Linked DNA regions of Homo sapiens: region 1 is linked to region 2. The links come from fine-mapping of genetic effects on gene expression. Tissue or cell type: testis. Region 2 holds a variant in brackets; the other region holds the start of a gene. All regions are shown on one strand. Distances are from middle to middle.

The links. PIP is the estimated chance that this variant, and not a neighbour inherited with it, causes the effect.
Region 1: H6PD starts here. The variant in region 2 is fine-mapped to the expression of H6PD in testis (GTEx, PIP 0.94).

The regions. Positions count from the first base shown.
Region 1 is chr1:9,232,009-9,237,907 of GRCh38, reverse strand. It overlaps H6PD (hexose-6-phosphate dehydrogenase/glucose 1-dehydrogenase), which reads right to left and starts at 3,134. Exons shown (of 5, transcript NM_004285.4): 1 at 2,842-3,134. RefSeq lists a silencer at 2,722-3,281.
Region 2 is chr1:9,257,149-9,263,047 of GRCh38, reverse strand. H6PD (hexose-6-phosphate dehydrogenase/glucose 1-dehydrogenase) reads right to left here. Exons shown (of 5, transcript NM_004285.4): 4 at 720-989. Among named protein-coding and RNA genes, the nearest start is that of H6PD, 25 kb to the right of the region's middle. The variant C/T (reference allele first, on the strand shown) is at 2,816.

The DNA.
Region 1 (5,899 bases), 25 kb after region 2:
CTCCAGTATCCAAAACAAGGCCTGGCATACAGAAGGCGCTCTATAAATATCTGCTAAATGAACAAATAAATCCCATTTGCACAGGACCACTGTCATTTCTGCATTTGAAATACGGCACAAAGGAATATACCTCTAATGGTGACTTCAAGCACTGTGACACAGCACACAGCAGCAGCTTACTACTTGGAACAACACTTTTAATAATAAAAGAGCTATTTATGGAGTATTTAACTATATGCCAAATGCTAGGCTATCGGTGTGACATGCATCACACCATTTAAATCTTGCCACAACCATATGAGGTAGGTAACATGATTATCCCCATCTTAGCAGGGAGTAGAGAGGAAACTAAGGCAAAGAGAAGTCAAATAACATGGCCAGGCGCAGTGGCTTACGCCTATAATCCCAGCACTTTGGGAGGCTGAGGCAGGAGGATCATTGGAGGTCGGGAGTTTAAAACCAGCCTGGCCAACACGGTGAAACCCCGTCTCTACTAACAATACAAAAATTAGCCAGGCGTGGTGGCAGGTGCCTGTAATCCCAGCTACTTGGGAGGCTGAGGGAGCAGAATCACTTGAACCTAGGAGGCGAACGTTGCAGTGAGCTGAGATTGCGCCCCTGGGCAACAGAGCAAGACTCCATCTCAAAAAAAAAAAAAAAAAAAAAAAAAAGAGAAGTCAAATAACTTACCAAAGGTCAAGCAGCTAGAGGTGATAGGATTTGAATACAGGCAGTCTGGTCCCAGAGCTAACCTTCCCGTAAAATGTGACTACATCCCTGAATGGCAAAATGTAAAACACTGTATTACATTTACACTGTATCAGTGTAGATACTGAACAGTGGTTTAAACCAGACAGGCTGTTTCTCTGCTCCATGAAGTCAAGCTGTTCCGAACACTAACTGCGGTAACCAGCCTCTGCCTCCCGGGTCCGCTTTGCCTTTCACAGTTCTTCCTTCTGACATCATGAAGACATCATGTATAAGCCTCAGTTGCTTTGTTGAAACGTGGAAGACCTTCAAGGGCTAGTTTTTGGAGAACTGGTTACATAAGAATATTCTGGATTCAAATCCCTGCCACTCAGTAACTATGTACCCTCAGACAAGTTATTTAACCTCTCTGTACCTCAACCACAGAATGGGAAAACAAATCGATGGGAAGCATGTAAGGTACTTAGCACAATGCCTGGCATACAGTAAGCACCCAAGAAATCCTAGCTGCTTTTTTTTTTTTTTTTTTTTAAGGAGAAGTCTAGCTTTGTCACCCAGGCTGGAGTGCAGTGGCACGATCTTGGTTCACTGCAACCTCCGTCACCGGAGGCAGGGCGGTTCAAGCGATTTTCCTGCCTTAGCCTCCCCAGCAGCTGGGATTACAGGCATCCGCTGCCCCCATGCCCAGCAAATTTTTGTATTTTTAGTAGAGACGGGGTTTCACCATGTTGGCAAGGCTGGTCTTGAACTCTTCAAGTGACCTGCCCGCCCTGGCCTCCGAAAGTGTTGGGATTACAGGCGTGAGCCACTGGGCCCGGCCAGAAATGTTAGTTTCTATCATTAAACCATTAGCTTCACGAATGAAGTCCTTCTTGCTAGCTTCTTGAACTGCTGTTAAAACCAACTAACCAGCTGGGCGCGGTGGTTCATGCCTGTAATCCCAGCACTTTGGGAGGCCGAGGTGGTGGATCACCTGAGGTCAGCAGTTCAAGACAAGCCTGGATAACATAGTGAAACCCTGTTTCTACTAAAAAATACATAAAATTAGCCGGGTGTGGTGGCACGCGCCTGTAATCCCAGCCACTCAGGAGGCTGAGGTGGAAGAATCGCTTGAACCAGGAGGAGAAGGTTGCAGTGGGCCGAGATCGCGCCATTGCACTCCAGCTTGGGCAACAACTAACCATCAACCACAGAAAAATGCCAAGGAAAAACTCAGACAGCTTTTCATGATCTTCCAATCATAATGATGAAAAATTAAAGGGATATGATGCATAATTTAAAATACGCTGTCTGGGCGTGGTGCTTCACACCTGTAATCCCAACACTTCGTAAGGCTTAAGCAGGAGGATCGCTTGAGCCCAGGAGTTCGAGACCAGCCAGGGCAACATAGTGAGACCACTGTCTCTACAAAAGGTTTAAAAATTAGCCAGGCGTGGTGGTGTGCGCCTGTGGTCCCAGCTACCCCGGAGGCTGAGGCAGGACGATGGCCTGAGCCCAAGAGGTGGAGGCTGCAGGGAACCGTGTTTGTGCCACTGTACTCCAGCCTGGGCAACCAAGCAAGACCCCATCTTTTATAAGTAAAAGATTTTTTACTTTTATATAAAAAAGTAAAAAGATAAAATAAAAAATATGCCCATTTGACACCAGTTTTCCCTCATCTGCTGCCTTTCATGAGCCATGGGCCTGTTGTGGGTGCAGGGGGAGTGGGCAAGGACACTTCTTTCCAGAAGTTCTCACTTCTGGCTAAGCATTCAAGGTTGGGTGAGCTGATTTTCAGAGATCCAGAGAGGTTTGCCCCTGGAAAACCGTTCACTAGATCCGGGTACGGGAAACGCTATGTGAAACCCGAGGGCCAATCAATGCCAAAGATTAAGCAGGTCCCGGGGGAAATCTCGGAGTTCCCCCTCTCCTGGAACTCAGTTCCGGGAAGCCCAGGGAAAGGACAGCTCGGCCGCTCGGGGCGACCCTGGAGGGAGCCTGGCCGCCTCCTGAGCAGTTCCAAAGCCGCCAGCCCCAGGCTCCGTGGGGCTGGCAGCGCAGGCTCCGGGGCTCGGCGCGGCCTCGGGCCCGGCGGCAGCGCGGGTTGGAGGCGCCGGGGCCGGGGCGGCGGCGGGGCCGGCGGGGGGCGCTTACTTCCTCTCGCGCGGCGGCGCAGGCCGCTCCTCCGGGACACGGCCGGGGCGGCGCTGAGGGCCGGGCCCGCTCCCGAGGGCTCCCCTGCGCCCTGGGCCGCACCTCCTCTTCCGCAGGGCCCGTCACTCCGACAAGTGCGCGTGTCACGCGGCCACGCGCCGCACGACACTCCGATACCGCCCGCGGAGCCCGCGGCGGCCGCAGGGGAAGGCGCGAGGCCAAGGCCAGCCCGGCCGCCACCCCGCCCCAGGCCTCAGGCCTCAGGCCTCCACCGCCTTGCGCTCAGCAAGACTGGGGCCCGGGCCGGGGGCGCGCGCGGCGGGGGCGCGCGCGGCGGGGGCGGGGGCGGGGCGGGGGCGCCGGCGAGGCCACGCCCTCCGCTGGCGGCCGCCGGGGCGGGGCCTCGGAGCTTCCGGGGCGAGGCGGTGGGTCAGCTCCGAGCCTCCGCCCCCGCCCTTCCCTTCGGCCCCCTGGTGGCCGTGCGTCCTAGAGCTGTCCTGCCGCGTCCGAGACGCGCGCGGGACCCAGAAGTGGCCGAGGGACGTGGTTGTGTCGTGGAGGGGACCCGGGGTGCTGGCTGCTCCCTACGATCTGGCACCCGCTCTGGGACTCCTCAGGCCTCGCTTTTCCCCATCTGTAGAATGAGCGGCTCGGTCTTTCCCGTCTTCAATATCCAGAGTAGGGATTTAGAAGTCGGAGCGCACACGCTGGCCACGCCTCCGCGCACAGCTTCAGATCTCTGCCACCCCTTATCACTTGTGTGACCCTGAGTTCAGTTTCTTCATCTGTACAGTGGGGACAATGGGAGTACCTGCCTCCGGGGTTGTCTGGCACTTGGGTGCTTAGTAAGCGGAAGCTTGGACCCGTGTGGCAAATAGAAGACTTTTGCTAAGACATTGCTAAGAAAGACAGCAAATGGAATCAGGGCTTCTCTGTAGGGTGAGAGGTATTTAAGTGAGAAAACGGGATCAGCTGCCTCTCAGAGCACTCAGTCCCCTTCCTGTCCCCCACCATTATCAGGCAGTAGGTGGCCCTCACCATGCTCCCCAACCTGCTCCCCACTTTTTCTTTTTTCTTTCTTTTCTTTTCTTTTTTTCTTTTTTTTTTTTTTTTTTTTTTTTGAGACAGGGTCTCGCTCTGTCACCCATGCTGGAGTGCAGTGGCGCTATCACAGCTCACTGCAGCCTCCGCCTCCCAGGCTCAAGTGATCCTCCCGCCTCAGCCTCCCAAGTAACTGGGATCACAGATGTTCGCCACCACTCCTGACTAATTTTTCAACTTTTTGTAGAGACGGGGTCTCACTTTGTTGCCCAGGCTGGTCTCGAACTCCTGGGCCCAAGTGATTCTCCCACGTTGGCCTCCCAAAGTGCTGGGAGGAGATTCTGACCTGAGAGAGAAACTGTGCTGCAGCTTTTTATTTCCCGATGGTTCCATTAGAGGTGGGAGCGTCTGGAACTAGCAGTGGCAACTTGGCAGTGGCCGGCAGGACTGAATGGGGCCAACAGGCATGATTACCACACAGGATGTTAGGCAAGGGGTTCCGGGAAGGCTGGGAACTGAGGGGAGCTGGGCCTCACCGTCACCAAGGCCAGAGGCCATCCGGGCGCCCGCAGAGGGCTGCCAAGCCTCGGCAAGGATTTAGGTCACACTGAGTGGGCCTGGCAGAGGGGGGAGCCAGGGAGCCAGGCACTCTCTGGGCTACCTCCACAGCTGGAAGTGAGCAGGAGGGCTTAGGGCAGGAGCGGGCCAGAGCAGACTCGAATGATGCCGGGACTCTTGGCCTAGAGCCCTTCCCATGTTCTGTGGCCCTGAGTGTGTCAGGCACCCACATAGCTCTGAAAACCAGGGCCCAGGAAGGCACAGATAGAAGTGGGCAGGTGTCCAGAGGCATGACCGGGGGTTCGTTTCCCAGATCTCCATGTGGCCATCAGAGGGTGATCTGCTACCTTGAGGGCTTCTTATAAATAGCCCCAGGTCAGGCGTAGTGGCTCATGCCTGTAATCACAGCACTTTGGGAGGCCGAGGCAGGTGGATCCCCTGAGGTCAGTAGTTCGAGACCAGCCTGGCCAACATGATGAAATCCCATCTCTACTAATAATACAAAAAAAAAAAAAAAAGCCAAGCGTGGTGGCGTGCCTGTAGTCCTAGCTACTCAGATGGCTGAGGCACGAGAATCGCTTGAATCCAGGATGCAGAGGTTGCAGTGAGCCAAGATCGCGCCATTGCACTCCAGCCAGGGCAACAGGGTGAAACTGTGTCAAAAAAAAAAAAAAAAAAAGCCAGGCACGGTGGCTCACGCCTGTAATCCCAGCACTTTGAGAGGCCGAGGCGGGTGGATCACCTGAGGTCGGGAGTTCGAGACCAGCCTGACCAATATGGTGAAACCATGTCTCTACTAAAACTACAAAATTAGCTGGGTGTGGTGGCGCATGCCTGTAATCCCAGCTACTCGGGAGGCTGAGGCAGGAGAATAGCTTGAACCTGGGAGGTGGAGGTTGCGGGGAGCTGAGATCGCGCCACTGCATTCCAGCCTGGGCAACAAGAGTGAAACTCGGTCTCAAAAAAAAAAAAAAAGAAAAAAAAACAAAGCCCCAAACCAAGTCAGTTGTAACCTGCTTACTAAGAAAACGTCCACCTGATTAGGTAACGTTGGGGTGGGGTCTGAGGGGGGAATTAGCCTAGGGGGTCACAATGCCCTCCCAACCCTATGTCCACTCCCACACCACCCTGAGATGTTTCATTTCTCCGCCTGTCTTTCCTCACCTTACCTTCACCTCAGTCTCATCCTGCCTCTGTACCTTCCAGTTTTCTCTGGGCAATCAGTTGCTTTGCTTTCTTTCCATCATGAAGACGATTAGGTCGTGCTAAGACCCAGTCATCCTGGTGTGAGAGTACTGCCACCCAAAACACAAAAATCGAAAACTTTGTCCCTGTGGGCCCTGGCATTGGTTTCTGCACCTTTGCCTGTCTGAAGCTTTTCTTGTTTCCGTGCTGACCGCAGCTACAAGGGACCAGGTGTGCCCAGAACCCCGTGAAGGAAGCCGGGAGAATGAAGGAA
Region 2 (5,899 bases):
ACCAAGCAGAGGCCCGTGGGTGGGGTGTTGGCAAGGAGGGACAAGGCCTGGTGGCAAGAGCCAGGGGCTGACAGTATTCCATGCCCAAGTTCCAAGCCTGGTTCATTCTGACGACTTCACCGAGCCTTACGTTTCCTCACCTGTAAAACGGGGCTAATGGCCCCTGCCTCGTGGTTGGTGCGTGAGGCTTGTATGAGAGGCATCTATAAAGCACCTGGCATACGGCGCGTGCTCAACAGGCAGCTGTGGCTCTTACTGCCTGGCTGCTACCTGGTGAGGAGCCAGCCTCTCCCAGAAAGCCCTGGGTCTCTGGAACTGCCCAGAGGACAGCCCTGGCATGGCACTTGGCCGCTGGAAGTGTCTCCAGCTGTGGCCAGGCAAAAGGCTTGCGGCCTCACTGGGGAGACCCTATGAGGCAGGAACCAGGTCTGTCTGAGCCTCGCACGACAAACCCTTGGGAAGCATCTGGGACTGAACTGGGGCTGACACGAGGCCATGGCCATTGGGATGTCCTTCGCCCTGAGGGCACCACCAGCTGGCCTGCCACTTTAGGCTGGTAGGAGGCCAGGGAGACAGGGGAATGCCATCCTTGCCTCCGAGCACCCTGGGGGAAATCCCACCTCAAGTCCCCTCCACTCCACCCAAGGGCGTCTGCATTTGGAAAGCTGCTCCCGGCGAAGTGGGCAGCCCAGTGCCCCATGCCCAGCCCCAGGGCCCACCTGCGAAGGTCGGCGTCAGGCTGTGGAAGCTGTCTGGCTTCTGCAGCTCTCTGCGCACCTGCTCACTGTAAGACTGGTACTGGCCCACGACGGCACTGCCCCTCTGCAGGCCCCGCAGCGCCTGGAAGACCTGAAGCTTGTGCCGCAGCACAGCCTCCGCACTGCTGACATTGTGGGGCAGCTCCATGGCCACGAGGGTGAGGACCTCCGTCAGATGGTTCTGGAGGACGTCGCGAATGACACCGTACTCCTCATAGAAGCTGGTGCGGCCTGGTGGAGGGAGGTGGAGAAGTGGGGAGGATCTAAAGAGAGGCCAGAACATCAGATCTCCCCGAGGTGCACCAAAACCCCAGCCCGCACATTCATCCTGCATCCTCTTCCCCCAGTCCACAGGGCCTATAAAAATGGTGCACACCAAAGCCAACCTCACCACGAGAAGGGAGGGAGGAAGTCTTGAAGCCACCTCTGTCAATGAGAACTACTGTAAGAGAAGGCGTCAAATCCGTGAGCCTCTACAGAAATCCACATGAAGAAAGCTCTATTCCCAGCAAAGGCCAGATTGCCTCTGTAGATACTGGCCAGCCCCTCGCCCCGCCCTGCCTGGCCACTGCCAGTAGGAGGCTCGGCACTGTGGGGGCTATGGCACCATGGCGGGGGCTGCAGCACCCCAGAGTATGACTGCCACTTACTAGCATGTGATCTTGGGTAAGTTACTTGACTTTTGTTCCTGCATCCTGCCCTTGGATGAGACTAACAAGTGCCACCTCACTACCGGGCGCACACCTGTGCCAGGCAATGTGCAGGGGAGTGGGAGGGAGGGAAAGTGGGAAGAAGAGAAAAGGAAGTAAACAAAATTACAGAGCAGTTGTGACAGAGGGTAATGAAAAGGCCCCTCCGAGACCTGAAGAGCCAGCCTCGCAAAAAGCCAGGGAGAAAGCATCTCAGCTGCAGGGACCCTCAGGTGCCAAAGCCCCGAGGCAGGAAGGAACTTGGTGTGCTGGGGGCCAGATGGAGGTGAGCAAAGAGTGGGGACAGCGGTGAGGCTGGAGAGGAGATCAGGGGTCTTGCAGGATAAGGCGAAGAGGCTGGACTTTTTTCTAAGATCAGTTGTAGGGGGGACACTGGAGGATCTGAGGCAGGAGAAGACGAGACCTGACCTATATTGGGGATCGACCCCTGGTCTTGGGGGGAGAATGGGTGCAGATGCAGGGAAGGCAAGGAAGAGGCTGCACAGCTGCCCAGCAGAGACGACAGGGCCTGGACTAATGGGCAGTACAGGAGCTGGAGGGGAGGGAGAGGCACCCCAGAGTCAGGATTGACTGGACCTGCTGACAGATGGGGTGGGTGTGAGCAAAATGGAGGCCCCCAACATGAGCCCTGGAAGTGGGGCCTGAGCAGAGGGATGGGCAGTGGAGGCGCTCACAGACACGGGGAGGCGGAAGCAGAGGGGTTTGGTGGAGGGTTTAGGTGTGTTTAGGCTGAAGACCCCCAGGCGCAGATGTCCAGTTGTCAGGTGTACGGGGTAACTGTGACGATAAAAGGGAAGAACACCTGGAGAACATGGAGCAGCACGACCAGCATAACAACAGCAACATAACAACACCAGCCTAACAACACAACACCAGCATAACAGCAGTGCAGCAACACCAGCGTAACAACAACATAACAACACCAATGTAACAACAGCAACATAACAACATTGGCGTAACATAACAACATCAGAATAACAGCAGTGCAACACCAGTGTAACAACAACATAACAACAGCAGAGTAACAACGGCAACATAACAGCAGCAACGTAACAACACTGGTGTAACAACAGCAACGTAACAACACTGGCGTAACAGCAACATAACACTGGTGTAACAACATAACACCAGCATAACAACAACAAAACAACACCAGCATAACAACATAACACCACCGTAACAACAGCAACATAACAACACTGGTGTAACAACAATGCAACACCAGTGTAACAACAGCAACATAACACTGGTGTAACAACAATATAACAACACTGGCGTAACAACAGCAACATAACAGCACTGGCGTAACGACAACATAACAGCACTGGTGTAACGACATAACACTGG[C/T]GTAACAACAGCAACACCAGTGTCAACAGCAATGTAACAACACCAGCATAACAACAACATAACACCAGCTTAACAACAGCAATATAACACCAGCTAACAGCAACGTAACAACACTGGCGTAACAACATAACGACACCGGCGTAACAACAGCAACGTAACAACACCGGAGTAACAACATAACACCAGCATAACAGCAGTGCAACAACACCAGCATAACAACATAACAACAGTAACATAATACCAGTGTAACAACAACATAACAGCAGAGTAACAACAGCAACATAACACCACCAGCATAACAACAACGTAACAACACTGGCGTAACAACAGCAACATAACACTGGTGTAACAACAACATAACACCGGCGTAACACCAGCATAACAACAACAAAACAACACCAGCATAACAACATAACACCACCGTAACAACAGCAACATAACAACACTGGTGTAACAACAATGTAACACCAGTGTAACAACAGCAACATAACACCGGTGTAACAACAATATAACAACACTGGCGTAACAACAGCAACATAACACCGGTGTTAAGAGCAATGTAACAACACCAGCATAACAACAACGTAACACCAGCTTAATAACAGCAATATAACACCATTGTAACAGCAACGTAACAACACTGGTGTGACAATGTAACAACACTGGAATAACAGCAACATAATACTAGTGTAACAACCACATAACACCAGCATAACAGCAACGTAACAACACTGGCGTAACAACAATATAACAACACCAGCATAACAACATAACAACACTGGCTTAACAGCAACATAACACTGGTGTAACAACAAGTTGTTGTAACACCACCACCAGTGTAACAACAACACAACACTGGCGCAACAATGGTGTAACCATACAACACCAGTGTAACAACAACATAACAACACTGGTGTAACAACAGCAACATAACAACACCGGTGTGGCCAGGCATGGTGGCTCACGCCCATAATCCCAGCACTTTGGGAGGCCAAGGCAGGCGGATCACGAGGTCAGGAGATCGAGACCATCCTAACATGGTGAAACCCCGTCTCTACTAAAAAATACAAAAAATTAGCTGGGCGTGGTGGCGGGCGCCTGTAGTCCCAGCTACTTGGGAGGCTGAGGCAGGAGAATGGCGTGAACCCAGGAGGCAGAGCTTGCAGTGAGCTGAGATCGCACCACTACACTCCAGCCTGGGCGACAGAGCGAGACTCTGCCTCAAAAACAAAAACAAACAAACAAAAAACATCAGTGTAACAACAGCAACATAACACCATCATCGTAACAGCAATGTAACACTGGCATAACAACATAACACCGATGTAACAACAGCAACATAACAACACCAGCGTAACAACAACATAACAACAGTAACACAACACCAGCATAACAACAACATAACAACACCAGAGTAACAACAGCAATGTAACAACACTGGTGTAACAACAACATAACAACACCAGCATAACAATGTAACAACACCGATGTAACAGCAGCAACATAACAACACCGGTGTAACAACAACATAACACTGGTGTAACAATGTAACACCAGCGTAACAACAACAAAACAACACCGGCATAACACTGGCACAACACCGGCATAACAGCAACATAACAACGGTGTTAACAGCAATGTTACAACACCAGCATAACAATATAACACCAGCTTAACAGCAATGTAACAACACTGGTGTAACAGCAACATAACACCAGTGTAACAACACAACACCGGCATAACAATGGTGTACAACACCGGTGTAACAACAACATAACACTGGTGTAACAACAGCATAACAACAGCAACATTAACACTGACATAACAACATAACAACACTGGGATAAGAATGACAACACCAGTGTAACAACAACATAACACTGGTGTAACAACAATGTAACAACCCTGGCGTAACAATATCGGTATAACAACGTAACAACACGGGTGTAACAACAGCAACGTAACAACACTGATGTAACAACACCAACATAACACCACCAGCGTAACAACAGCAACATAACAACACTGGCGTAACAACACCGGTGTAACAATAGCAACGTAACAACACCAGCATAACAACACCAACGCTGACAGCAGCCCCGGCCCGCGCCGCTCCTCCCCATACTCACAAAGACCCTGCACGCAGGCACCGTGATCACTCCTGCTCCGCGAGTGAGGAAGGAGGCAGGTGACCAGGCGCGGGGGCAGAAGCAGACACTGCTTAACCACGAGCTCCGCTCCACTCCCTCCTCTGAGGCTGAACCCCGGTGAGCACTGATTATCGGTGACTCGAATATACAGGACAGTCCCAGAGATCAGGGTTCCAACGCATACCACCTCGCAGGAGAGTTCCAATGCCCAAGTCTCCTCACACCCTCACCTACAGAGAGAGCCTGGCCTCAGACACGAGGAGCCATCATTTCTCAAAGGCTTCTGCACGTAGGACCCCTAACCTGGGATTTGTTTGTTCACCCAGCAAACTCCCAGTCATCCTTAAGGGCTCAGCTTCTAGGAGCTTTGGCCTACCCCTTCTGAGGGGCCCTGGCTTCTTCTAGCCCAGCTGACTGTAATTCAGGCCTGTTTCTCTTTCTTCCCCACTACGAGGGAGGCTCCATCTGAGTGGCATCTGCCCTCTGCTGCATCCCTAGCCCCTAACACAGCACTACGTTCAGACAGTGGACAGCAGAGAAAATGAAGATCCACACATTGTCACGGATAAACCTCCAAGACGTAATGTGGTGAGAAAGCAACATGATTACTTTGATAAAATAAAAATTAACTTGAAAATAGGATATAGGCCAGGCGGACTGGCTCATGCTGGTAATCCCAGCACTTTGGGAGGCCAAGGCAGGAGGATCACTTGAGCCCAGAGTCCAGGAGTTCAAGACCATCTTGGGCAACAAAGTGAGACCCTGTTTCTACAAAAAATTAAAAAAAAAAAATTAGCCAAGTGTGGTCCCAACTATTTGGGAGGCTGGGGTGGGAGGATTGCTTGAGCCCAGGAGGTCAAGGCTGCAGTGAGCTGTGAACCTGCCACTGCACCCCATCTGGACAACACCGCATGAGACCCTGTCTCAAAAAAAA